Linked DNA regions of Homo sapiens: all the other regions are linked to region 2. Evidence: fine-mapped expression QTL. A gene starts in region 2. Each other region holds a variant in brackets. All regions are shown on one strand. Distances are from middle to middle.

Evidence for each region. PIP is the estimated chance that this variant, and not a neighbour inherited with it, causes the effect.
Region 1: its variant is fine-mapped to the expression of POLDIP2 in prefrontal cortex (BrainSeq, PIP 0.91).
Region 3: its variant is fine-mapped to the expression of POLDIP2 in breast (GTEx, PIP 0.92).

The regions. Positions count from the first base shown.
Region 1 is chr17:28,383,950-28,392,116 of GRCh38, forward strand. It overlaps SARM1 (sterile alpha and TIR motif containing 1), which reads left to right. Exons shown (of 9, transcript NM_015077.4): 3 at 408-620; 4 at 890-981; 5 at 1,091-1,326; 6 at 4,225-4,327; 7 at 4,401-4,590. Among named protein-coding and RNA genes, the nearest start is that of SARM1, 16 kb to the left of the region's middle. RefSeq lists an enhancer at 998-1,067. The variant G/C (reference allele first, on the strand shown) is at 4,980.
Region 2 is chr17:28,353,105-28,361,271 of GRCh38, forward strand. It overlaps POLDIP2 (DNA polymerase delta interacting protein 2), which reads right to left and starts at 4,423. Exons shown (of 11, transcript NM_015584.5): 1 at 4,184-4,423; 2 at 2,691-2,772; 3 at 1,384-1,481; 4 at 591-687; 5 at 137-212. The coding sequence starts at 4,344. It overlaps VMA12 (vacuolar ATPase assembly factor VMA12), which reads left to right and starts at 4,543. Exons shown (of 6, transcript NM_152464.3): 1 at 4,543-4,777; 2 at 5,812-5,885; 3 at 6,211-6,300; 4 at 7,425-7,467; 5 at 7,631-7,743; 6 at 8,053-8,167. The coding sequence starts at 4,567. The coding sequence ends at 8,148. MIR4723 (microRNA 4723) reads left to right here and starts at 7,550; the gene lies at 7,550-7,630. RefSeq lists enhancers at 3,823-4,588, 4,701-4,800 and a silencer at 4,121-4,510.
Region 3 is chr17:28,393,213-28,401,379 of GRCh38, forward strand. SARM1 (sterile alpha and TIR motif containing 1) reads left to right here. Exons shown (of 9, transcript NM_015077.4): 8 at 2,693-2,814; 9 at 2,945-8,167. The coding sequence ends at 3,074. It overlaps SLC46A1 (solute carrier family 46 member 1), which reads right to left. Exons shown (of 5, transcript NM_080669.6): 4 at 7,398-7,554; 5 at 1,430-6,501. The coding sequence ends at 6,444. Among named protein-coding and RNA genes, the nearest start is that of SLC46A1, 8.9 kb to the right of the region's middle. RefSeq lists enhancers at 2,469-3,152, 3,836-4,519, 5,284-5,373. The variant C/A (reference allele first, on the strand shown) is at 3,435.

The DNA of each region.
Region 1 (8,167 bases), 31 kb after region 2:
ACCCAGAGGTGTGAAAGCCTTGGAATGTGTGCATGTGCGTGTGTGTGTGAAGTGTAAGTTAGTGGAAGGTGAGGTGAACTGGGAGTGATGGGCAGCTGCACTGTGCCCTGCCTGGCGCTATGCTGAGAGCTCAACTTTATTCCAGGGCCGGTGGATGCTGTAGAAGGGATATAAAGGAGGGATAGGCCCCTCCGCCCCCAACCCATCCGAGTCAGGACCTGGTCAAGAATTGAGAGAACTTCAGGAGGGGGAATCCGCAGGACCCCATGACTTAGTGGCTGAAGGTGGGGCCAGGGCAGATGGAGAGACTTTGGGTTGTGAGAAGAGACAAGGAGAGGGACTGGGCACGTGTGGGAGCACCTGGAGAGCTGGTGGGACCTACAGCCCTCTCCCCACTCCCTCCCTAGGTGTTCAGCGACATCGGCGCCATCCAGAGCCTGAAACGCCTGGTTTCCTACTCTACCAATGGCACTAAGTCGGCGCTGGCCAAGCGCGCGCTGCGCCTGCTGGGCGAGGAGGTGCCACGGCCCATCCTGCCCTCCGTGCCCAGCTGGAAGGAGGCCGAGGTTCAGACGTGGCTGCAGCAGATCGGTTTCTCCAAGTACTGCGAGAGCTTCCGGGTAGAGTCGCGTGGGATACGCCTCCCCCGAGTCAGAGCGGGCGCCCTGTGCACAGGGACTGCGTTCCCTCCCCGCCTCGCAATCCCGCGGCGCCAGGGTCGCTTTTGGGGGCGGGGAGCCTGTACGCAGCCACCGTTAGGGTCACTCGGCTCTGATCTAGGTCCCATCCGCCTCCTCCACGCCATCTCCAGTTCCTTCCCTTGCATCTTGTGCTCGAGGTCCAAGGGCGGAGTAGCGAAGCCCTTCCTGACACCCGACTCCTCCCCCAGGAGCAGCAGGTGGATGGCGACCTGCTTCTGCGGCTCACGGAGGAGGAACTCCAGACCGACCTGGGCATGAAATCGGGCATCACCCGCAAGAGGTACGGAGCCTCCTGCCCGCCGGACCCCAGCTAGGTCTAAATAAGCTCCCCCTCCGCCCACAGCCCGTCCGAGTCTGGACCTCAGCGTCTTCTCCTCCGTGGGGTGCAGGTTCTTTAGGGAGCTCACGGAGCTCAAGACCTTCGCCAACTATTCTACGTGCGACCGCAGCAACCTGGCGGACTGGCTGGGCAGCCTGGACCCGCGCTTCCGCCAGTACACCTACGGCCTGGTCAGCTGCGGCCTGGACCGCTCCCTGCTGCACCGCGTGTCTGAGCAGCAGCTGCTGGAAGACTGCGGCATCCACCTGGGCGTGCACCGCGCCCGCATCCTCACGGCGGCCAGAGGTCAGCCCGCTCACCCGGGACCCCGCCCCAGCCCCAGCCCCAGCCACGGCCCTGGAATGGTGAGGGGAGACACGGGGTGGAGCCTTCCAGCCTCGCCGTGGATTGATTGAGCACAAACGTGGGTCACACTGGGCTCTGAGGATGTAAAGATGAATACGTTGCACTTTACCTCAAGAAGTTCCCAGTCTGAGGTGGGTAGGCGGTGGGAGGAAGGAGGCTATTAAACAGGCAAGCGGCCCCGGCAGGAAGCTACCCAGGTCTCCAGTGGGAGCACAGAGGAAGCCCAGCCCACCCCATCCACCCAGGTCTAGATTTCAGAGAGGACAGGATGCCTGACCATGTCTTGAGAGGTGCACTGGCGGGGAGGGGTGGCAACAGGAAGGGCAGCCCAGGCAGAGGCAGCGGCCTATGGAGAGTCCATGCAGTGGGGTGTAGGCGGGAAGGGTGTGCGTATGTGTGTTATCCTATTGGCCAACAGCTTACAAAATTTGGGTCTAGAGGTGGTTTAGAGTGAATTCTAGGCCTCTAGCCACCCTCCTTATTTACTAATTTATTTTTACTTACTAATTTACTACTTAGCTAATCTTTATTGTCAATTACAAGGTACTCTGTTTGGTTTTTAAGATATTATCCCATCAGTCTCTATATTGATTCTATGCAATGAGTGTTCAGTTTTTAAAATCAACCTTAAAGAACTCTTGAAAGAATAAAAAGAGGAGTAAGTGTCCAGTTTGAGGGCCGGGCACCGTGGCTCATGCCTGTAATTCTAGGACTTTGGGAGGCCAAGGCAGGCGGATCGCTCAAGTCCAGGAGTTTGAGACCAACCTGGGCAACATGGTGAAAGCCCATCTCCACTAAAAGCACAAAAAAATACAAAAAATTAGCTAGGTGTGGTGGCGCATACCTGTAGTCCCAGCTACTTGGGAGGCTGAGGTGGGAGGATCACCTGAGCCCAGGAAGTTAAGGCCGCAGTGAACTGTGATCAGGTCACTACACTCCATCCAGCCTAGGCAGCAGGAGTGAGACCCTATCTCAAAAAAGAAAAAAAGTATCAGTTTGAGGAGTTTTGAAAGACATCTGTGTGACCCCCCACCCCCACCATCATCATTAAAGATATAGAATATTTCCATCATGGGTGTTCCTTTTAAAGATAATGAAACTAACATTTAAAGAATTCAAATACATTTCCCACAGTCATAAAAGTCATTAGATGGCAAAACTGGGACTTGAGCCCTTGTCTTTCTGCTTCATAAACAAACAAATGTTGTCTATGAGGGTTATGTCTAAATATTATAAGAAGATGAATTCTTTTCATTTTATCCTTTCATTCAGCAATTACAGACTAAGCACCCACAAGACACAAGGGACTGAGCTTTGGCTGCATTCTTATGCTTCAACCAAAGCAGGTTGGCTTTTATTATTTTTACATTGCAGCTCCCATTAAAACTTCAAGATTTCATTTTTATTATAATTAATTAATTTGAGACAAGGTCTCATTCTGTCACCTAGGCTGGAGTGCAGTGGCGCAATCACAACCCACTGAAGCCTCAACCTCCCGGGCTCAAGTGATTCTCCCACCTCACCTCCCAAGTAGCTGGGACCACAGGTGCGCAACACCACACCCAGCTAATTTTTTTATTTTTTGTGGAGACAGGGTTTCACTATGTTGCCCAGGCTGTTCTCAAACTCCTGGCCTCAAGCAATCTTCCCAACTTAGCCTCCCAAAGTGTTGAGATTACGGGCGTGGGCCACCGCACCCAGCGCAAGATTTCATTTTTAAACAACAGGAAAATCCTAGGGCAAAAATAGCTTACAAAAAATAGTTTGTATAGTGAGTAGGGAGCCATGCATAGTTTTTAAGTGGGAGGAATGACATGCTCAGATTTGGATTTTAGAAAGATGTTCTGGTAGCTGTGGCAAATGGACTACACTGGGCAATTCTTTTCTTTTCTTTTCTTTTCTTTTTTTTTTTTTTTAGTCAGAGTCTCACTCTGTCGCCCAGGCTAGAGTGCGGTGGTGCATTCTTGGCTCACTGCAACCTCTGCCTCCTGGGTTCAAGTGATTCTCGTGCCTCAGCCTCCCAAGTAGCTAGATTACAGACATGTGCCACCATGCCTGGATAATTTTTTGTAAAGACAGGGTTTCACCATATTGGCCAGGCTGGTCTCGAACTCCTGGCCTCAAGTGATCCACCCACCTTGGCCCCCCACAGTGCTGGGATTACAGGTGTGGGCCACTGCCCTGGCCTAGACTGGGCAATTCTAGCTGGGTTTGGGGAGGCCATTGAGGAGGCTGGCATTGGAAACCTGAGCCAGGGAAGGGCCCGGAGGCTGGAGTCCAGTATGTTTAGTAGGTAGAATCCTCAGAATGCGGTGCCTGGCGCTTAGTACTGAGCGTGGCTCCAGAGGAGCAGAGTGCTGTCTGTTTTACTCACTGCTGAATCTCAAGCACTGAAGACAGTCCTGGCACACAGCAAGTGCTTAGGATGTATTTGTTGAATAAATTAAATGGGAGGCAGGAGTTGAGGCTGATACCCAGGTGTCTGGCTTTGGTGGGAAATAGGGAAGAAGGAATGAGGGGGAGATTTGGGGTGTGTTGAATTTGGAGTGATTGTGGGCAGCTGGCTGTTCAGGTCTGGAGTTCCAGAGAGAGGTCAGGGCTGGAAGTGCATGCATATCAATGTCCCTAGAACACAGTGCCTGCCTCCTAAGAGGAACCCAACAATAACATGACCTTCCTCCTGGAGGCCCCATTTCTCCTTTTTGGGGCAGGCCACCCTCCCCAGGCTGGGCTGAGAGGGCTTGGTGGACTGGGGACTAAGTCCACAAGGGATGATATACCTGACAGTGAGTGATGCGGAGGGGCCACCTTCACCATGCTGCCTATTGCCCACTTCAGAAATGCTACACTCCCCGCTGCCCTGTACTGGTGGCAAACCCAGTGGGGACACTCCAGATGTCTTCATCAGCTACCGCCGGAACTCAGGTTCCCAGCTGGCCAGGTGAGGAGGGGCGGGCGGGCAGCGACGGGGCGTGGGGACAAGGCTGTGGCACTGACACAGGACTTACTTGCAGTCTCCTGAAGGTGCACCTGCAGCTGCATGGCTTCAGTGTCTTCATTGATGTGGAGAAGCTGGAAGCAGGCAAGTTCGAGGACAAACTCATCCAGAGTGTCATGGGTGCCCGCAACTTTGTGTTGGTGCTATCACCTGGAGCACTGGACAAGTGCATGCAAGACCATGACTGCAAGGATTGGGTGCATAAGGTAGGTGCCTGCCTATGCTTCTGCGGTCCCAGCATTGGCCTGTGGTCCAGAAGATAGGGTCGTCTTCTATTCCTTCTTGTCTGCACATCCCGGCACACTTAGCCCTGAAGCACCTCCTTGGCCCAGCTGGAAGTCAGGAACCACAGCTCTGACTGTAATAGGACTTTAGCAAACCACAAGGGACAAGAGACTAGGCTTTGGCTCTCTGAGCCTCAGTTTTCTTTTTCTTTTTTTTTTTTTTTTGTTTTTGAGGTAGAGTCTCGCTCTGTCACTCAGGCTGGAGTGCAATGGCGTGATCTTGGCTCACTGCAAGCTCCACCTCCCGGGTTCACACCATTCTCCTCCCTCAGCCTCCCGAGTAGCTGGGACTACAGGTGCCCGCCACCACG[G/C]CTGGCTAATTTTTTTGTATTTTTAGTAGAGACAGGGTTTCACCGTGTTAGCCAGGATGTGAGCCTCAGTTTTCTTTTCTGCAAAATGGGGTAACTTACCTGTTCCACTCACCTTATAGAACTGTTGTGAGGATCAGAGAGACATAAAAATGCTTTGAAAAATAAATTCCATGAGAGACAGGAGAGCATAGCGACAGGCAGAATGGAATAGTTGTTGAGAGCTCAAAACTGAGAGTTTGAATCCTGGCTCTGGCCTTGGGCAAGTTACTTAACCCCGATAAGCTTCATATTTATTTCTGGAAAGAGGGTATAATAATAGTATCTAACTCCCTAGAACATTGTTATAAGGACTAAAAAAGCCAAAATTTGTGAAGTGCTTAGCAGAATGGCTGGCACATAGTAACTGCTCAATAATGGTAGCAATTATTATTATTAATATAATTATTATAACTACTATATCTGTTTAATTCATCATTGTATTTTCAGTGCCTGACGCATTGTAGGAACTTATTGAATACTAACAGAATGCATTGATGGATAGCTCCATATTGCATCTTCAGGTTATTAATCATTAATCGGTCAGTAGGAATTGGAGTTGGGGCTGAGGGATGCAGTAGTCATCTAAGAGACAGGATGAGACAAGCAGTCAGCTCAGAGACAAGAATATGCCCAGAGGGCTGGGCACAGTGGTTCACACCCGTAATCCCAGCACTTTGGGAGGCTGAGGCAGGAGGATCACTTGAGGTCAGGAGTTCGAGACCAGCCTGGGCAACATGGTGAAACCTTGTCTCTACTAAAAAAATACAAAAATTAGCCAGGCATGGTGGCGCACACCTGTAATCCCAGCTACTCAGGAGACTGAGGCAGGGGAATCGCTTGGGCCCAGAAGACGGAGATCACACCACTGCACTCCAGCTTGGGCAACAGAGTGGGACCCTGTCTCAAAATGACTAGATCGCATACAAGTTGGTGTAAATGCTGAGCCAGGTAAGCAAACATCTTGCTTGCCACAGGGGTTTGGAGAAGGGAGAGAGCATCAAGGTGTCAACGAAAAGAGTCAGACTCTATGAGCGACCATGGCCTGTGACACAGCCCTCAGGAGACCCTGAGAACACGTGCCCAAGGTGATCAGGGCACAGTTTGGTTTTATACATTTTTGGGAGACACGAGACATCAATCAATACATTTAAGATGTACATTGGTTTGGTTCAGAAAGGCAGGACAGCTCAAAGCAGGGGCTTCCAGGCTATAGGTAAATTTTAAATTTTTCCAGTTGATAATTAATTGAGTTTATCTGAAGACCTGGGATCAATAGAAAGGGAATGTTTAGGTTAAGATAAAGGGTTGTGGAGACCAAGTTTTATTGTGCAGAGGAAGTTCTCAGGGCAGACTTCAGAGGGAGTAGGTTATAAAATGTTTCTTATCAGACTTATAAGGGTGCCTGGCTCTTTGTTGATTATCTCCTGAGTCCGGAAAGAAAAAGAAAAAAATGGGGGGAAGGGGATTCTCTATAGAATGTGGCCTTTTCCCACAAGAGACAAACTTGTGGAGCAATTTCAAGATATGGCAGGGAAATATATTTGGGGTTAAAATATTTTTATTTCCTCCCTTATTATGTGATGTTATGCTAGAGTCAGGTTAGAAAGCAGACCACGCTATATAGGGTTAAAATTAAAACCTCCTCCGATAAGACTTTATGGTTTGTAGGGCATGACTCCCTAGGCTCCTTAGGTAGGAATTTGGGCAAGATAAAAAAAAAAAAAATCAGAGTTTAGTCCTCAAAGGACTGGAATAATCAGGGAAGACTTCATGGAGGAAGCAGGTCTTGAGAAGAATCTTAAGAATCTGGGTAAGTGGAATAGAAGGCATCCCAGGCCAGGGTAACAGCATGAGCAAAGGAATAAAGGTAGGGAGGAGAACAGTGCTGAAAGCCCACATACATCTTGGTACTGCTTTCTCCATATCACAGATGAAGAAACTGAGGCTCAGAAAAGTAGAATAATGTTCCCCTGGCTGCACTACTAGTGTAGAAATCAGAAAAGCTAGGCTTCAAATTCCATCTATCTGACTCCAAAGCTCATCACTTTCCCAAGATCCACACTGCATTCTATGGCACAGCTCTGAGGGGGTGTGAGGGGAGGTGATGGGGTAGGGCTGGATTCGGTTGACACCAGAGATGATTGTATCTCTTCACAACTCCACATCCAGTGATGTCATGTTGGTAGCTTGTCATCAGCCATGGTGGGAGTATTTACACCAAGGAAATTGGCAACCACTACAAATCAAAGTTTTGTTAGTTTGGTTGATTGGCTGGTTGGGTTTTCTTCCCCCATGAATAGCTAGTTACTATAAAGTTAGCAGCACACCACTGGCTGGATAAGAACCATGGAAACCAGGTAAAGCAGTGTCTAAAGGCAGGAGAAGACCTGTGCTTAAAGCACTGGAAATCAAGGAGCCCATGAAGGAGAAGATGCCAGGGCGGTGGGTCTTAGGATGAAGGCTCTGACACTGGAATGCAGTCCACATGGAGTGTGGAGTCAAGCCCCAGAGGCCATGTAGGAGGGGCTGAGTACTAGGCCTGGTTTGGGGAGGGGCACTGGGGCAGTTGAGCATCCAGGAAGAACATGGCTGATAACCCAGAGCACGTGGCAGGCAGCCTTTTGAGAGAAAGAAAAGAGTGTCTGTGAGCTCCATGAGACTTCAGACCTTGCCTCATTCATCTGTGTCCCTGGTGCCTAAAACCATGCATGGTACAAAGGAGGCTCTATGCAATTGCACCAAAAAAAAAAAAAAAAAAAAAGAGAGAGAGAGAGAGGCTGAGGCTGTAGAGGAGTTTATAGAACAATTGAATCAATGATTAAGCAGACAAGTGATACTGATGAAGCTGAGATGCCATGCCTGGGAGAGCCATACATATCTAGTAGATTTACCAGGTTAGAGGACTTGACTCCGTTTTTTTTTTTTTTTTTCCAGTAGAGATAGGGTTTCGCTATGTCACCCAGGCTGGTCCCGAACTCCTGAGCTCAAGCCTGGAGTTCAGTGCCTGCCTCGGCTCCCCAAAGTTCTGGGATTAGAGGCATGAGCCACCGTGCCCAGCCAGAGGACTTGACTCTAATTGTTTTCGTTCTCAACCAGCTAGGTGATCCTGAACAAACCATTATCCCTTTCTTTTATTTATTTAATTATTT
Region 2 (8,167 bases):
CCAGTATGGGATAACCCTGATATCATACCTCTCAGCATCATAATCCCTCCCAGTGGATGACAGGACATCAGAATCCTCTCCCTGAGACACACCAGACTCCTTCTTGACGGGCACCATTCAAATGCTAACTACTCACCTGGGATGGCATAGAGGGCCCGACTGTCATCATGGTTAGCCAAGAAGGTCACAGCTTCTGTCTGAGATCTCTGAGACTAAGGCAAGAAGTGAATCAGTGGTGAAACCATGTCTCTGCTAAAAAGTACAAAAATTAGGCTGGTGTGGTGGCAGATGCCTGTAATCCCAGCTACTCGGGTGGCTGAGGCAGGAGAATCACTTGAACCCGGGAGGCAGAGGTTGCAGTGAGCTGAGATCTCACCACTGCACTCCAGCCTGGCGACAGAGTGAGACTCCATATCAAAAAAAAAAAAAAAGACGTGAATCAGGGCTTTGTTGGCCACTGTGCAGTCCAAGGCCTTGGGGACCAAGACTGACCTGGGCTCTGTTTGACCCCCTTCCCTCCCTTTGTCCCCATTGGGATGCAGGACTTTCCATGGAGAGGACCCCCAAGCCCAGCCATCTTGCTTACTTACTATATGTGGGCAGTCACGAGCATCAATCAGCACCTGATAGTAAGTGTGAGTTTTGCCTTTCACCTCCTTGGAGCCATGGCCAGCAGGGTTCTCTGCTCTATGGGGTGGGAGAAGGAGGCCAAGATCACCCCAGGAGAAATGGAAGCTGTGGCTGACTCAGCTCCCTACTCCTCCTCACCTAAACAGGCTGGTCTCTGATCTAAAGGGGCTTTAGCACCAGCTGGACACCTGCTCTGCAGCACCTCAGCTCAGCTGCTCCTCAGTTGGGGCAAATAATAGAGCATGGAAGACCATGGTATGGAGCCATCATCTGACCGTGTGGATACCTCTTAAAAGAAGGGGGCCATGTTGAGAAAATCAAATTGCCACCTCAGTCCCCAGGGCCCAGAGTACTCTTGTCTTCTTATATCCCAGGGACTGTCTGTGATCACTTAATGGGGCTGAACCTTTTCTGTTTTAATGTATTCTAGGGATGATGTGAGATTGAGGGAAAGACTCCAGCTGAACATCAAGAAATCAAGAAGACTTGTCCCCCAAATGCCCTCTGGGATACTCATAATGAAAATTAGGAATGGCTTAGGAAAGCATTCTGAGGAGGCCTAAAGGGACTCTCTGACTTAGACTATCCCTGGCACTCAGCACTTTTGTCTCCATGGGTCTTAGTCCCAGAGAAGTACTCTGGGGATGTTTCCAAGGCCTAGGAGGACGCTGTCTTCACCCCTAGTACCCCAATTACATATGTCTGCCATCTCCTCCTGAGGATACTGTGAGGCACAACCACAGGGAAACTTACTTTTCTGGAGCTGCAGAAGCCACATCCCGGTCATACAGTCTGGCCTGCCAGGGAAACAGGACGACACCTCGGTAGCCAAAAATGCTATGAAGGAAAAGCTGGAAGGAAAGAGGGGCCTCAGTGAGTCTGCAGTCCAGCAAATCCATCCAGGTGGGCCCCAGACCACAAAGCAACACAGGTGGAGGCAACTCCAGCACAAGGTCTTGCTACCTCTTCCCTTGAAGTCTGTGATCAACCAGACCAATGCTGGAACACTCTTATTTCTTCTTTACCTGGCTGACTCTACTCATCCTTTAGGTAAAAGCTTAGGCCTCCAGGAAGCCTTCCCTGACCTCCCTTCCACTTAGCACAATGTACAGCTATTGGCCATTTGCAAATCGTTCTTTTCTAGACTAGAAACTCCACAATAGCAGGAATCATGTCTACTTTGCTTTCTGATTTAACCCTAATGCACAATGCCTAGTCCATTGTAGGCACACAGAAAAATAAAATGTTGAACAAACAAAAAGTCTTCCTTACCTACAATATCCTAGAAGGGCCTAAATCTATCCCAGTGGACCCAGAACAAAGCTGATATAGAAAAAGAACCACACATCCAGAGTTTACCACACTGAAGTCAATTTTATTACGGCAAAGCATCAAAGGTATACTTTTCTGAAAGCTCCCTCCACGGCTTCCCACCATCCACTATGTTAGAGAAATCTTCAGCAACTTGGCTAAACCTCACTATAGTCCACACCATCCCTGTCCACATTAACTTGGAAAGAGAACCCACTGACACATTAAGTGCATTCAAATCCAGGAGAACAGAAACCCTATCTATAAAAATTTGATTCTGGGCTGGGTGCGGTGGCTCACGCCAGTAATCCCAGGACTTTGGGAGGCCAAGGCAGGTGGATCACCTGAGGTCGGGAGCTCGAGACCAGCCTGACCAACATGGAGAAACCGCATCTCCACTAAAAGTACAAAATTAGCCAAGTGTGGTGGCGCATGCTTGTAATCCCAGCTACTAGGGAGGCTGAGGTAGGAGAACTGCTTAAACCCAGGAGGTGGAGCTTGCAGTGAGCCGAGACCATGCCATTGCACTCCAGCCTGGGCAACAAGACTGAAACTCCGTCTCACAAAAAATAAATAAATAAAATAAATAAATAAAATAAAAAATGAATACAAATTTGATTCTGGAATGGCACCAAACATCAAGGTGGAATGAATGGAACACCATACCATGCAGGCCTGTGACCTAATCTGACTTTTTTCAGAAGCAGAGCACTCTATGAAAATGAAAGATGACCCAGCCCAATACTCACCTGCCCGGTCTCATATTTTCCATTCTGTTTTGGCACCTCAAACACACCAACTGTCTCCAACACTTTGCCCTCTGGTCGGTTTCTGAGTAGGAAGGAAAAGAACAAGCAACAGAAAAGCTGAGAAGGTAATGGTAGTTATCCATAAGAAAAAGCTCCTAGGATACTGAGGGGCCAGGGCGATGACAGCAGAGAAGGGTTTGGGGTAGTGGGACCAGCTGGAGCAGGAAAGGCTTTCCTCCTCCTTGGTGAAAACCTCCACAGTCTCCCAGTGTTAGATGTGACCGCTCCCATACTACTGTCTTCTCTCTTCACTGGGCATTCTTCATATCATGCCCTCACACTCTGCTCAAATGTACCCCTGCCCTTGTTTCTTCCCTAACCCACCCTCCTGACCTCCCACAGCACTTTAACTGTCTTGCTCACTTTTTCAATTTTTTTAGAAGGGGAGTATCTTTTTTTCTTCTTTTCTTACATTTTCTATATCACAAGTCATCAAACAATATCCTGCTCCCTTTACATTTCAGTTGTGTCCATGTCTTATCTTTATTAAATACTGTAAATTCCCTGGGAGCAATGCCTGAGTCTGATTAGCTGGTACTGCCCCCTCAGAGCCTAGTGTACAAGAGGTGCTCAAAAAATATTTGTCCTGTATTATAATTCCATGTCCATCTCCCCCTCTAACCTGTAGCCCTTACATTGCCCTTGAAAAGCTTAAACATCTCTAGATTTCCTACGGCACATCGCTCTCTCAATACCGTTTTTGTTCATATTCTCACAGGGGTCTTAAATTGCAAATAGCTATCATCTCTCCCCAATGTTCAGTGTCTAATATCAGCCACTAAAATGTCAGTCACCACTCTGAACAGGGCTGCTCTTTCTAGGGGCCCTTCAAATAAAGGCTGTTTTTACTGTTTTGAAGATGTGAACTTTATGCTTCCTCCCACTGATCCACCAGCCCATTTGATCCGCCTGTCCCATCCGTGGAAACAGTTTCCACACCATCCCCATGGCCTCAAACCCCCTTCCCCAAGTCACAGATAGAAAATCGATCTCCCCAAAGTCACTTGGAAACCTGGGGCCTACGAGGGTCCACACCCAAGAGTCTCGTTTCCCACCTCTAGCATCTTTCTGAGGCAGACCTTCACCAAATCCAAAGGCTGAGGGTTCAAGCCAATGCCCTAGGGCTGAATTAAAAAGCTTCCCTCTGACATCGGTGCTGGGGACCCCAGCCGGGGAAGTAGGATTCACTTGGGGAGGGTAACCTGTTCCCCCCCAGGGCCAGCCCTGTACAACCAGGGCTCTGGGCCGCGCTGGCTTCCCTGCTCCTGGCACATGTCCCAGACAGCGCAGGTCGGCTCCCTGCTCGGGACCCTCTCCCGGGTCAAACTCCAGTCACCCTCAGCAGGCCCGGGCCCCTGGCCTCCGCACTGGCTAGGAACACGCTCTCTGGGCTCCAGGCCCAGTTCCTCGCGCCCCCTGGCTCCGTCCCTCACCGGGACGAGAGGTGCCTCCGCGTCGTCGTGGTCGACGCTGGCGAGAAGGCTCCAGCTCCGGCCGCCGCACAGAGCGGCCTTGGCCACCGGGCCCCAGTCAGCGACCGGGACCACCAGCGGCTGCCCACGGCCAGGGCCCGCCGGGCTGTACAGGCTGCCATGTCCCGCCCGAGCGCCCGCCCGGCTGCTGACACAGAGCCCGACCCGCGGCCGGGCGGCGTTCCGCCCCAGTCCCACACTGCCCCGCGCGGCGTCCCGGCCCTCTTGGCCCGCCTGGTCCCACCCCGGAGCTCAGAGCAACTTCCGGTGCGCTTAGCGTTACTTCCGGCGCGCGGCGGGCGGAAGTCCGGGTTGGGGTCACCTGACCGGAGAGCCGGCTAGATATGGCGTCCTCTTTGCTTGCGGGCGAGCGATTGGTGCGTGCTTTGGGCCCCGGCGGGGAGCTGGAGCCAGAGCGGCTACCCCGAAAGCTGCGGGCCGAGCTTGAGGCCGCGCTGGGGAAGAAGCACAAGGGCGGTGATAGCTCCAGTGGCCCCCAACGCTTGGTTTCTTTCCGTCTCATCCGGGATCTGCACCAGCATCTGAGAGAAAGGGGTGAGCCCCAGTCTCCAGTCCGGGGTCCCCTCCTTGTGTCCAGATCGATTCCCTCCTGAGGTCTTTTCCCATCATTCCCCTTCTTCTACGGAGCACTCATCTAGACAAGTCAAGAGTCACTCCATAAATCCCAGGGCCACCCACTTTCTTAACTCCCATGGGAATTTCTCGTGGATGACAAATTTGCTTGTGCAGTTTCTGCTCTTTTGAGAGCCCCCTCTTCACTTCCAGGCACACCTAGGCCCAATTCACCCTTGAGAAAGTCTAGGTTTTTACCAAATACAAATATCACAGGTTTTGTCTCTTCTTTTTCTCCACTTTAGGAATCAGCTTAGCATAGTGAGCTTGTAGGAATCCGGATTTCTTTCCACCTCAAAAGCAAGAGTGGTGAAATCTGATACTTTGTTTTGTTTGTTTGTTTTTTTAATATAGGATGGCAAAAGCTGTGTTGAAAGATCTGGCCTGAGAGTAGCATGTGAGTTCCAGTCCTAGCTCTGTCACTAATCCTTTGAAGGAGTCATTTCTCCTCGCTGGGCCTCAGTTCCCTTATGTGTAAAGGGAAGGAACAGGACAAACTAGCACATAAGGTATTTTGCCAGAAGTAACATAGACCAGCCAGAAGTGCAAAGGGTAGACTGCTCAATTATTAGAACTAGAAAGGACCTTAGAAAGAGATTGCCTAGTATTAGTGTCCTCTGAGCATTTAGCATCACTATGACCTAAACTTATTTAGGGAAGAGCTGTTGTGGCCACAGAACTGATCTAACCCAAAGGCACAAGTAAATGGCTTACTTGTTAGTTATAACACTGGCAGGATAATTGAGAGCTGACAGCTAAAGTCACCTGCGCAGCACTGGGAGATACCTACATGGAATTATCCAAAATTCTTTTCAATTGAAAATGATCCTGGAAATGGATTAATGTAGAGATGGCCCTGTTTTATTTTGGTAGAAAGAAGGGCTACACCCCTCTTGATCTTAACCCTTCAACCTCAGCTCGTGGATCATTGTGTTTGTGAAACCTTTTCTTCTCAGATTCCAAACTATACCTCCATGAGCTCCTAGAAGGCAGTGAAATCTATCTCCCAGAGGTTGTGAAGCCTCCACGGGTATGTAAGGGATATGTTTGTGAGAGTGGTTATTGACTGAGTTGGGCTTATCCATGATACACTGAACTTATAAATCAACTTTTAGGCTTGAAAAATTGTTTTTGAAATCTTTGGGATCTGGGGGAGCCAGATATTGTCCTCCCCATCAGCTGTTTGGAAAATTGAGATCAAAAAAAAAAAAAACAGTTTCAAAGCACTGGAGTTACGACTAGTATGTGGGTCTCCTGATACCTTTAGCAGTGCTTTACCCCTGGAACCAATGATTGTGATGTGCTTTCTAACAAGCTGGGAATATCATTCTTCTCATTTGATTTTTCTGCTTCAGAACCCAGAACTAGTTGCCCGGCTGGAGAAGATTAAGATACAGCTGGCCAATGAGGAATATAAACGGATCACCCGCAACGTCACTTGTCAGGTAAGGACATGCTCTTCAGTACGTGGTCTAGGTAGCCCCTCAGAGTAGGGCCCTGCAGTGGAAGAAGATACAGAGTTTAGAAAAAACATGGAAACTTGGTTTCTATACTGTTCAGGGACCATAGGAAGTCTGCATACAAACAACACAGTTCCCATCTCATTCACTGAGACTCTGGGCTGAGATGGTGACCAAGTTTTAAACGTCATAGAAGTGGGAGTTAGCCGGGCACGGCGCTCATGCCTGTAATCCTAGCACTTTGGGAGGCTGAGGTAGGTGGATCACTTGAGGTCGGGAGTTCGTGACCAGCCTGGCCAACATGGTGAAACCCCGTCTTTACAAAAAATACAAAACTTAGCCTGGCGTGGTGGCGGGCACCTGTAATCCCAGCTACTCGAGAGGCTGAGGCAGGAGAATCACTTGAACCCAGGAGGCGGAGGCAGAGGCTGCTGTGAGCCAACACTGCACCATTGCACTCCAGCCTGAGCAACAAGAGCAAGACTCCATCTCAAAATAAATAAATAAATAAATAAATAAGTGGGAATGAATCTTGGAGGCTTTTTTTCTTCTTCTTTTTTTTTTTTGAGATGGAGTCTCACTCTGTCACCCAGGCTGGAGGGCAGTGGCAGGATCTCTGCTCACTGCGGCCTCCGCCTTCCAGGTTTAAGTGATTCTTATGCCTCAGCCTCCCAAGTAGCTGGGATTACAGGCATGCACCACCACGCCAGGCTAATTTTTTGTATTTTTAGTAGAGACCACGTTGGCCAGGCTGGTCTTGAACTCCCAGCCTCAAGGTGATCCTCCTGCCTCGGCCTCCCAAAGTGCTGGGATTACAAGGTGAGCCACTGTGCCCAGCCATTCGAGCATTTCTTCTGACAGGGCTCCCTACTACTCTATGGCATGCTCCTACCCTGGAACAGGAGAGTAGATGGGTACTGGCAGCCTATGTCCTCTCTCCGAAATGCCTGCTCTGTAGTCCAGAAAAGAGTCAAAATGGTTCCAGACAAAAGAATCCATGGGGAGGGCAGAGTTAATATGTTGGGGAATAGAGAGGGCTGAGCCAGACTGTCAATGGATGCTCTCTGAGCTGCTTCTATTCTGAATCATCTTCTTTTTCTTTTTCCCAGGATACAAGACATGGTGGGACTCTCAGCGACCTGGGAAAGCAAGGTGAGGTACTAGGAGATCAGGCTTCTAAAACCTTTTCCTGAGATGGGTCATGACACTCAGGCTTGTTGTTTGACTGAAACCCAGTTGGTGGGGGAGCCATGAGATAAGAGCACCTCCTAGAGAATGTTGAACTAAAGGTGCCCTCTCTGGCTCCTCCCCAAAGTGAGATCATTGAAGGCTCTGGTCATCACCATCTTCAATTTCATTGTCACGGTGGTTGCTGCCTTCGTCTGCACTTACCTTGGAAGCCAATATATCTTCACAGAAATGGCCTCGGTGAGTAGGCACTGGGCAGGGCAGGGTGCCCCTGGTGGGGGTGTTAGTGGGTAAGGGAGGACGTATGTGAAAGTGCCTTGCACAGGTTAGGTATTGAACAGATATTTATGCCATTAATAAGGGGAGCATTAGAGCTTTCCAGCAGTCACGGGAGGTTAGGTAATAACCCCAGGAGAAGCCACATTCTCTTTTCTTCCCCTCCCCCAACTTAGAGGGTGGTTGGGGGGCTCTCCATCCTCATTAAAGTTGCTGGGGTACAGAGCTGGTTGTTGGCCTGCATCCCTTAAGCCTGGTTCTCCCCATCTCCAGCGGGTGCTAGCTGCATTGATCGTCGCCTCTGTGGTGGGTCTGGCCGAGCTGTATGTCATGGTGCGGGCAATGGAAGGCGAGCTGGGAGAACTGTAACTGGTGCTTCATCATCAAG
Region 3 (8,167 bases), 40 kb after region 2:
AATCCTGAAGACAGGGACTATCATTAATCCTGCTTTATATATTAGAAAACAGAGGAACGAGTGTGGTAGTGCAGGCCTGTGATCCCAACACTTTGGGATGCTAAGGTGGGAGGATCACTTGAGGCCAGGAGTTTGAGACCAGCCTGGGCAACATGGTGAAACCCCATCTCTACTAAAAAATACAAAAAATTAGCCGGACATGGTGGCACACGCCTGTGGTCCCAGCTACTTGGGAGGCTGAGGTGGGAGGATGGCTTGAGCCCAGGAGGTTGAGGCTGCAGTGAGCCTTGATGGTGCCACTGCCCTCCAGCCTGGGCAAAAAGTGAGATCCTGTTCCCCTGCCCCCCGCCAAAAAAAAAAAAGAAAGAAAGAAAAGAGAAAACAGAGACTTTGAGAACCTATTATTTTTGCCTCAGGTCGTAGAGCCTGTGTCAGAGACTCAGTGCAAACCCCGATTTGATGATTCCAGAGTGCAGCCCTAACTGCTGTGCTATGTTTTCTCATTCATTCATTCATCCATCTATTAAATATTTAGCAAGGGCTAACTATAAGGGCTTTGTGAAAGATGCTGAGATATAAGGTCAGTGAAAAATAGATATGATCCCTCCTCATGTCTGGCAGAGAAGACAAATACTGAGTAATTTACCCATTAATTAATTAAAATTTGCAACTATAATATGTTCTGCAGAGCCTATAATAGGGGAACTGACTTGGTCAGGGCAGTGGGAGACAACTGCCCTGTGTAAGAGTTGATTGAGCTCAGATCAGAAAAATGAATGGGCATTATCAAGGGGGAAGGACAAGGAAGCTTATTTTGTGTGTCTGGGAGGACAGGGCAGGGGTAGAGTTTGAGAAGTGGACTGTGGCCAACCACATAGGGTCTCACAGGCCACATGAAGGAGTTTGGACTTTATTCTAAGACCATGCAAAGTCTTGAAGAATTTTAAGTAGGGGGTGACAGGACCTAATTTGTCAGATGTGCATTTTGCAAATATTAGCTACATGAAAGGGCAATGTGGAGAGTGAATTAGAGAAGACAAGCGTGGATGAGGAAAGACCTGGTGGGGGCTTAAAGATAATGGGGATTGGAAGAGGGTGGTAGTGGGGTGGAGGTAGGGAAAAATAGTGGATTTGAGAAATAAGTAAGGAGTACAATTGGCAGGGCGCATGATGGATCAACCTGTACGCAGGAGTGTGATGTTTTTCTTCTGACACCAAATTGTTTGGGGTTTTTCCCACACTAACCACTAATTCTCCAGCTTGCCAACACCAACTGGGTATCCCGCAATTCAATTCAATTCTGAAATGTCAGTCACGAGGCCCAGGCCCCCAGGCTGCCACATTTCTGTTTGATTTGGCTACAAATTCGGGGGTGCCCATGACACCCCGAGATTCAATTTGCCAGAATGACTCACAGAACTCAGGAAAGCACTTTACTTACTATTAGTTGTTTATTATGTCAACCTTAAATAATGAGATTCAGAAAATAAGACTAAGTATAGAGTTTCTTTGAGTGCAAAGTTTGAGAATAGCCACCCAGTAAGCATTGACTCCAAAGGCATGGGGTGAGCATTCCAAACTGGAGAAGTTAAGGTTTCACTTCCACAGGCAAAGAGAGAGGAATTTTAGCAGGATTACAACATTTTCCATACAAGACCAGTGCGTATGTTACAGTGCTTTGATTGGTTATAGATTGCTACATTCCAAGGAAGATGACTTTATTACCCCCTGAGAAAGGGTGGTGATCTAAGTGGGGATCTAAGGGAGTCTTATCTCTGGTGCCATTTGGTCTTCCTAAGTAATTACAGAAAAAAAAAAAATAGGTGGAAGTTGCAGCTGCATGCCCCATGACTCAGGCTGCAGAGACCAATTCCTGTCAAGGCTCAGAATAACTTAAAGTTCCAAGAGCTTTAGGTTTGATTTAACAAAGCTTGAATAATAGTAATAAATAATATTATTAATCTCAAAATCCTGGGCTCAAGTGATCCTCCTGCCTCAGCCTCCCAAAGTGTTGGGATTACAGGCGTGACCCACCATGCCCAGCTGAATTATTTAATTTCACAGTTATAAAGGACACAGCTCAAGAATAGCCAAATGGAAGAGATACATAGGATCTCTACGTATGGAGGGTGGAGGTGTGGATGCCATGCCTTCTACCACCTTCCCAGCACCTACACCTGTTTATCAACCTGGAGGCTCTTCAAAACCCCTTGTTTGGGGGTTTTTATGGAGGTTCCATTATGTAGGCATGATTGATTAAATCATTGGCCATTGGTGATTGAACTCAATCTCCAGCACCTCTCTGGAGGCTGGGAGGTGGGGCTGAAAGTTCCAATCCTCTAGTCATGCCCTGGTCTCCCTGGTGACCAGCCCTCTTCCTGAAACTATCTAGGCTACCCCCATAGCACCCCCCGGGCCCCCAGTGGGGAATCATCTCTTTAGCATACAAAGACACTCATCACTCAAGAGATTCCAAGGGTTTTAGCAGCTCTGTGCCAGGAACTCTGGGCAAAGGAAAAATATTTATTTTTTATTACACTACAAGGGTTAAGGTAGACATCAAGGTGGACATCAGGACTGGTGTCCTGCCCTGGGCCCAGCCTCGGGCCAGTGGGCCTCCCAGCACCTGCCTGGCTACAAGGGTCCCTAGATGGGTACAGGGGTATCTTCCTCCTTTCCTTTCTTTCTCCAGGAGATTGTGACTGCTTTAAGCTGCGGCAAGAACATTGTGCCCATCATTGATGGCTTCGAGTGGCCTGAGCCCCAGGTCCTGCCTGAGGACATGCAGGCTGTGCTTACTTTCAACGGTATCAAGTGAGCCCCAGGGCCCTGGGACCAGGGGGGTAGGGTACAAATCACCATGACAGGCAGAGTGTGGGCAAACAGCTGACTAGCAGCTCCCTCTGCCCAGCTGTCTGAACCACATTGGCTCCTGTGCCCACAGGTGGTCCCACGAATACCAGGAGGCCACCATTGAGAAGATCATCCGCTTCCTGCAGGGCCGCTCCTCCCGGGACTCATCTGCAGGCTCTGACACCAGTTTGGAGGGTGCTGCACCCATGGGTCCAACCTAACCAGTCCCCAGTTCCCCAGCCCTGCTGTGACTTCCATTTCCATCGTCCTTTCTGAAGGAACAGCTCCTGAAACCAGTCTCCCTGGGCTGAGACAACCTGGGCTCTTCTTAGGAAATGGCTCTCCCTCCCCCTGTCCCCCACCCTCATGGCCCACCTCCAACCCACTTTCCTCAGTATCTGGAGAGGGAAGGGAAGTCAGGCTTGGGCACGGGAGGTTAGAACTCCCCCAGGCCCTGCCATTGGGTTGTCTGTCTCCGTCATGGGGAGGGTCCCTGCTCAGTTCTGGAGACACTGGAGTTGGGGTGGGGGTGGTTCTGCATTCCCTTCTCCTGCTGATAGCAGTCAGCTTGAGGAGGATGA[C/A]GGAAGGCAGCCTCAGACAGGAATTAAGGCAATGCCCAGGCGGGCCTGGGCACTGTATTCTGAGCAAGGGCCTGGGCCCAGGAGCCAGCCAGGGATGAGTGCCATCATGGCTCTCCACTCAGACTGTGCCTGGCCCCTGCACTTACAACTTCCTGCCGCTCTGTGGCCTTGCCCTGTAATCACTCAGTGCCCTTAGCTAGCCTGACTAAGTCCCAGATCCCCTACAGCTTCCTTCGGTGTGGTATCTTTTGCCACATCCAGGGCGAGGGTTGAGGCAAACCAGCCCTCCCTCTGACTTCCTTGTCACTGCAGCCAGCTTTGCTGCACTTGCTGGTGCACAGGAGCCTCCTGTTTGGGCCTGGGTCTGGGCATGGGGAGGCCGTGCCTCAAAGCCCACCCTACCCCATGCCTTGGTGCTGTGCCTCAGGCTCCTTCCTGGTCTGGCCCAGCTGGCTTCCCCAGCCCCTCAGCCATCCAGGGCTACCCACTGCTTACTCAGGGACCAGGCAGCCCCCATGGCAGTAAAAGCAGCCTAGACAGAACCTGCAGCTCTGTGGAAAGAGGCAAAGTCCTGAAAAGGCAAAGGGTTGTCACTTAGGGCAGCTTCTCCAACTTTAACATGCATCCAAGTCACCTGGGAATGTTGTTAAAATCAGGAGATCTGGGGTGGGGCCTAGGACTCTGCATTTCTTACAGATTCCCAGGTGAGCTGATGCTGGTGGTTAAGGGTAGCAAATCTCTAAAGCACGAAGCCCTCACAAATCTTTGCCATTTCCCAAACACTCCGCTCCATGGTCTCCAGTCATCAGAGCAACTCTACCTGGTATTATCATCCCCATTTTACAGATAATGACACTGAGGCTCAGAAAGGTTGAGGATAAGCCCACTTTCCTGTCATTAGTGGCAGCCCCAGATCCAGACCTAGGCCTCCTGGCACCCAGTCCACTGGCAGTGGAATTGCTTTCCTGAGAATCATTCTGAGGCTGGGCTATTGCTTCTCCCTTGCTTCAAAGAATCTAGCAGCGGGGGATAGGATTTTGCAACAAAAAGCTGACCCAGAGGCCATACAGAGCAGGAATATCCCATTGCCCCCTCCTCCACTGGGTTCAGAGGGTAAGAAAGCACCCTCCAATAAACCCAGGCTCCAGGCCGTGGGGGCTGCTGAAGGCTCTTTCCCCGCAAGGGCCAGGTGTTGACACCTTAAAGCTGGCTGCGCCCCCAGCCCCACTCTTGGCTGTGCTGGCCAGGTGACTCCTAGTTCTTGGCCACATCATCAGAAAGTCAAAGGTCTCACTCCAGGTTTGGGGCTCCTTCCTTCCACTCCCCTCCCTGCCAGAGTCTGTCTTGGCCAGTGCCAGCCTCGATGCTTTGGTTTTGACCCCACCTGATCCTCCTTTCCTCATGCAGCACAAGTGCTCACCGGGGCCAGAGCCAGGGCATGGATATGACAAGCAGGGCAGCCTGGACACTGCCCTCACAGGACAGCGCCAATAACAATACAGTGTCTGAGTATCTCCAGGGGATGATTTCTGGCTCTTTGTCTCCAATCAGTCCCACTCCCTCCTGAGGTCCCCAAGGGCAGTATTCAGAGAGGTTTCCTGCGTTTTATTTCTATTTGGTATACCCTCCACTGTTGTCCACTGCCCTGTGTGGCCTTCTGGTTGACCTCTGCCCGATCTTCTGTCTCTCTGAGGGAATCAGAGTCCAGCATCCAGCCCCAGCTGGAACAGCTGAAGTCACAAGCCTCCTCTAAGCCAAGGCCAGTGTGTTCAGAGGTGACTGCCACCCATACTAGGACAAACACAGCTCAGATCACCAGGTCAAGCACCTAGGCCTGGCTTCTCCTGAGACAGAGGACTCAGAAGTGGCCTTTCCTCCAAAGCCTGCTCAGACACAGGTCTGTAGGGCCAGGGTGTTCTGCTTGGCTGGGCTGCAGCTGCTACCCCTCGGTTGGGGCTGAGTCAGCCAGATCCTCCCCCTACTTCTCCCCAAGGGCCAAGAACTGCTCAGGGACATTAAAGGTCAAAAGTCCAGCCACACTCATTCATCCTTTCCCCAGGCCCATGAAGAGAGGCATCTCATTGTAGAATGTATGAGGAAGTGGGAAGTATCTCAGAGAATCAGCTAAGTTTCCTAACTTGTCCATCCAAATGTGATCACCACGATTCAACAATTTGGGGCATTGCTGATCTAGCCGTTCCTAGTGGGGCTTGCTCAAGGTTGCACAGCGAGTCAGTAGAAGCCCTGGCTGGCCCCACTTGGTACCAATCCACCAGGCAGCTCAGGGCTCCTGCCCAGCCCAGCAGCTTCTGTTGTCTAACGTATGGCAGGCAGACTGGGAGCAGGAAAACAGAGGGCCCCAAAGCCCAAGGCACCAGAAGGTTTGTTTCAGTTTGCTGAAGCTGATTTGTAATGATTGGCACTCTTCAGCCAGGGGAGTGGGTAGGCCATAGCCAAGGATCGATTCCCCAACCACAGCAAAGGCAACACTCTTCCTCCAGAGATCACCAAGCCCCTCTTACCTCCCTCCCTCCTTCCCAAGGCTGGCACTAACCAGGTACCACATTCATTGTTAAGGAATGGCTGATGACTGCTACACGTGTTGGGAACCTGGTTGGGGCTGTGCAGTTTGGGCTGGAAGGAGAGATGCCAGCCCTCGTGCTGCCTCTGGTCCCTGAAGTGTCACCTCTCTCAGGACCTCTCCTCTGGCCTGTGGGGTTATAAGTGATGGATAGCAGAAAGGGAGAACTGACTCCTGTCCCAAATAGCTCCTCTGCCACCTGTCCTGCAGTGGGCCTGTGTGGGTTATGATTCTAGATCCTAGACAGAGGCTGGGTCAGCTGTGGATGGGGTGGTGCCTTGGTCTCTCTTGACTACCTCGTCCAAAGAGAGCACTGCCCTTAGACAAGAGTTGCTTGTCCTGCTGTGGGCTGGGCTTCCAGCTGCAGACCTCCAGTTGCTTGGTGTTCACTTTGCTCCTCTTGCCCTCTGTCTTCTGGTCCAGGCAGATCAGGGGCTCTGGGGAAACTGCTGGAACTCGAGGTGAGGATCAGCCTTTTCCAGCATCCTGTGAGAGACCAGAGAGAGAGTTTGGATTTCATGTGGGGAACCCTCAAGGCCTGTCTGGAGAAGTGACACAGGATTTACTGGGGTGGGCTGGTCCAGGTAGCTCTCCTGAACCTCCTCCTTCCCCAAGCTGAGAAGCTGAGAGCTGGAGGACAATATCCAGGGACATGGCTCTGGAAAATAACTTTTTTTTTTTTAAGAGACAGGGTCTTGCTCTGTTGTCCAGGCTGGAGGGCAGTGACATAATCATAGCTCACTGTACCCTTGAACTCCTGGGCTCAAGTGATCCTCCTGCCTCAGCCTCCTTAGTAGCTGGGACTACCAGTGCATACCACCATGCCTGGGTGATTTTTTAAATTTTTTATACAGACAAGGTCTTGCTATGTTGCCCAGGCTGATCTTGAATTCCCGGGCTCAAGTGGTCCTCCTGCCTCAGCCTCCCACAGGATCGGGATTACAGGCAAGAGCCTCCACGCCCGGCCATGAAATATAATTCTTAATATCATACAGGAAAAAGTCAGCGGGTCAAGCTAGCCTGTGGCCCAGCCACAACTAGCTGACAAAGCTTCCTGGCCTTCCCTTTAACACAGTTCTGCTGCCATAGTTCCATCTATAAAATGGGAATGGAGGGAAATAGGGGAACTGGGAGAGAGAACACAGCCTTGCCAAGCAGCAATGTTAGCCTGATCCTTCCTCCACCTAGCTCGCCATCTCGCCCTTGGAAAATGGCTCCTGGAGGATTAGGCAGCCATCTGCAAGGAGAGGGGCAACCTGGGACAAGACACCCAGAGGGTAAGGATTCCAGGAATGAAGCTGCCATTTCTGGTTGGGAGGAGAAGAGGAAACTTTTAAGAGAAAGGGCTCCATTATGAGCATGGGTTCAGGGCCCTGCATTACCCAATCAGAACAGCCGGGATGAGCAGGAGGCCAGCTCCCAGGAGGAAGGGGAACCCCTTCATAAAGTTCAGAGTGGCTGGGTAGAGTGAGTTGAAGATGCCGGAGGCCGTCAGCATGGCCAGGCTATTCACACAGGCCACAGCAGAAAAGAGAGCACCTGTGAAGAAATAAATACCATACTCTGGAGTCCGAAAGGGCCATATTCCAACTCTGGCACCACCACCTCACAGCTGTGTGACCGGGAGTAGTCACTTAACCTATGTCTCCCCTTCCTCACCAGTAAATCCTGCTACATCATGTACTGTGACAAGGATTCAGTAAGGTCATATGTGGACAGTAGCTGGCACAGAGGGGCTACTAAACAAATGGCTGCTATTAAATCCACATTAAAAGTACATGTGATCTGACAGAACCCAGCACATAAAAGAAAAAAAAAGTACATGTGATATTGTCTGATGAAAGCTTGATGGAAATGGCTTTTTTCTGGTTTATCCTCTTTGGAATCATCTCCTGTTTGGGATTAACTGCTGGTCTGATCAGTTCCAATATTCATAGCGGTGTCACCACTGAATAGCTTCTTATCCTTTGGGTTCCTGTTCCTCCTTCTGCTAAATAAGGATAATACCTATTTCCTAGATTGTGAGCAACATTAAGTTCACATGGAAATCACCCATCACTGGGCCTGGTCCCCTGGAAGTAGCTAGTTAGTAAGGGCTGTTCTTTTCTCCTGTTTCTCTTGACATCTCTGGGCACAGAGAAAGTGCTGGGAA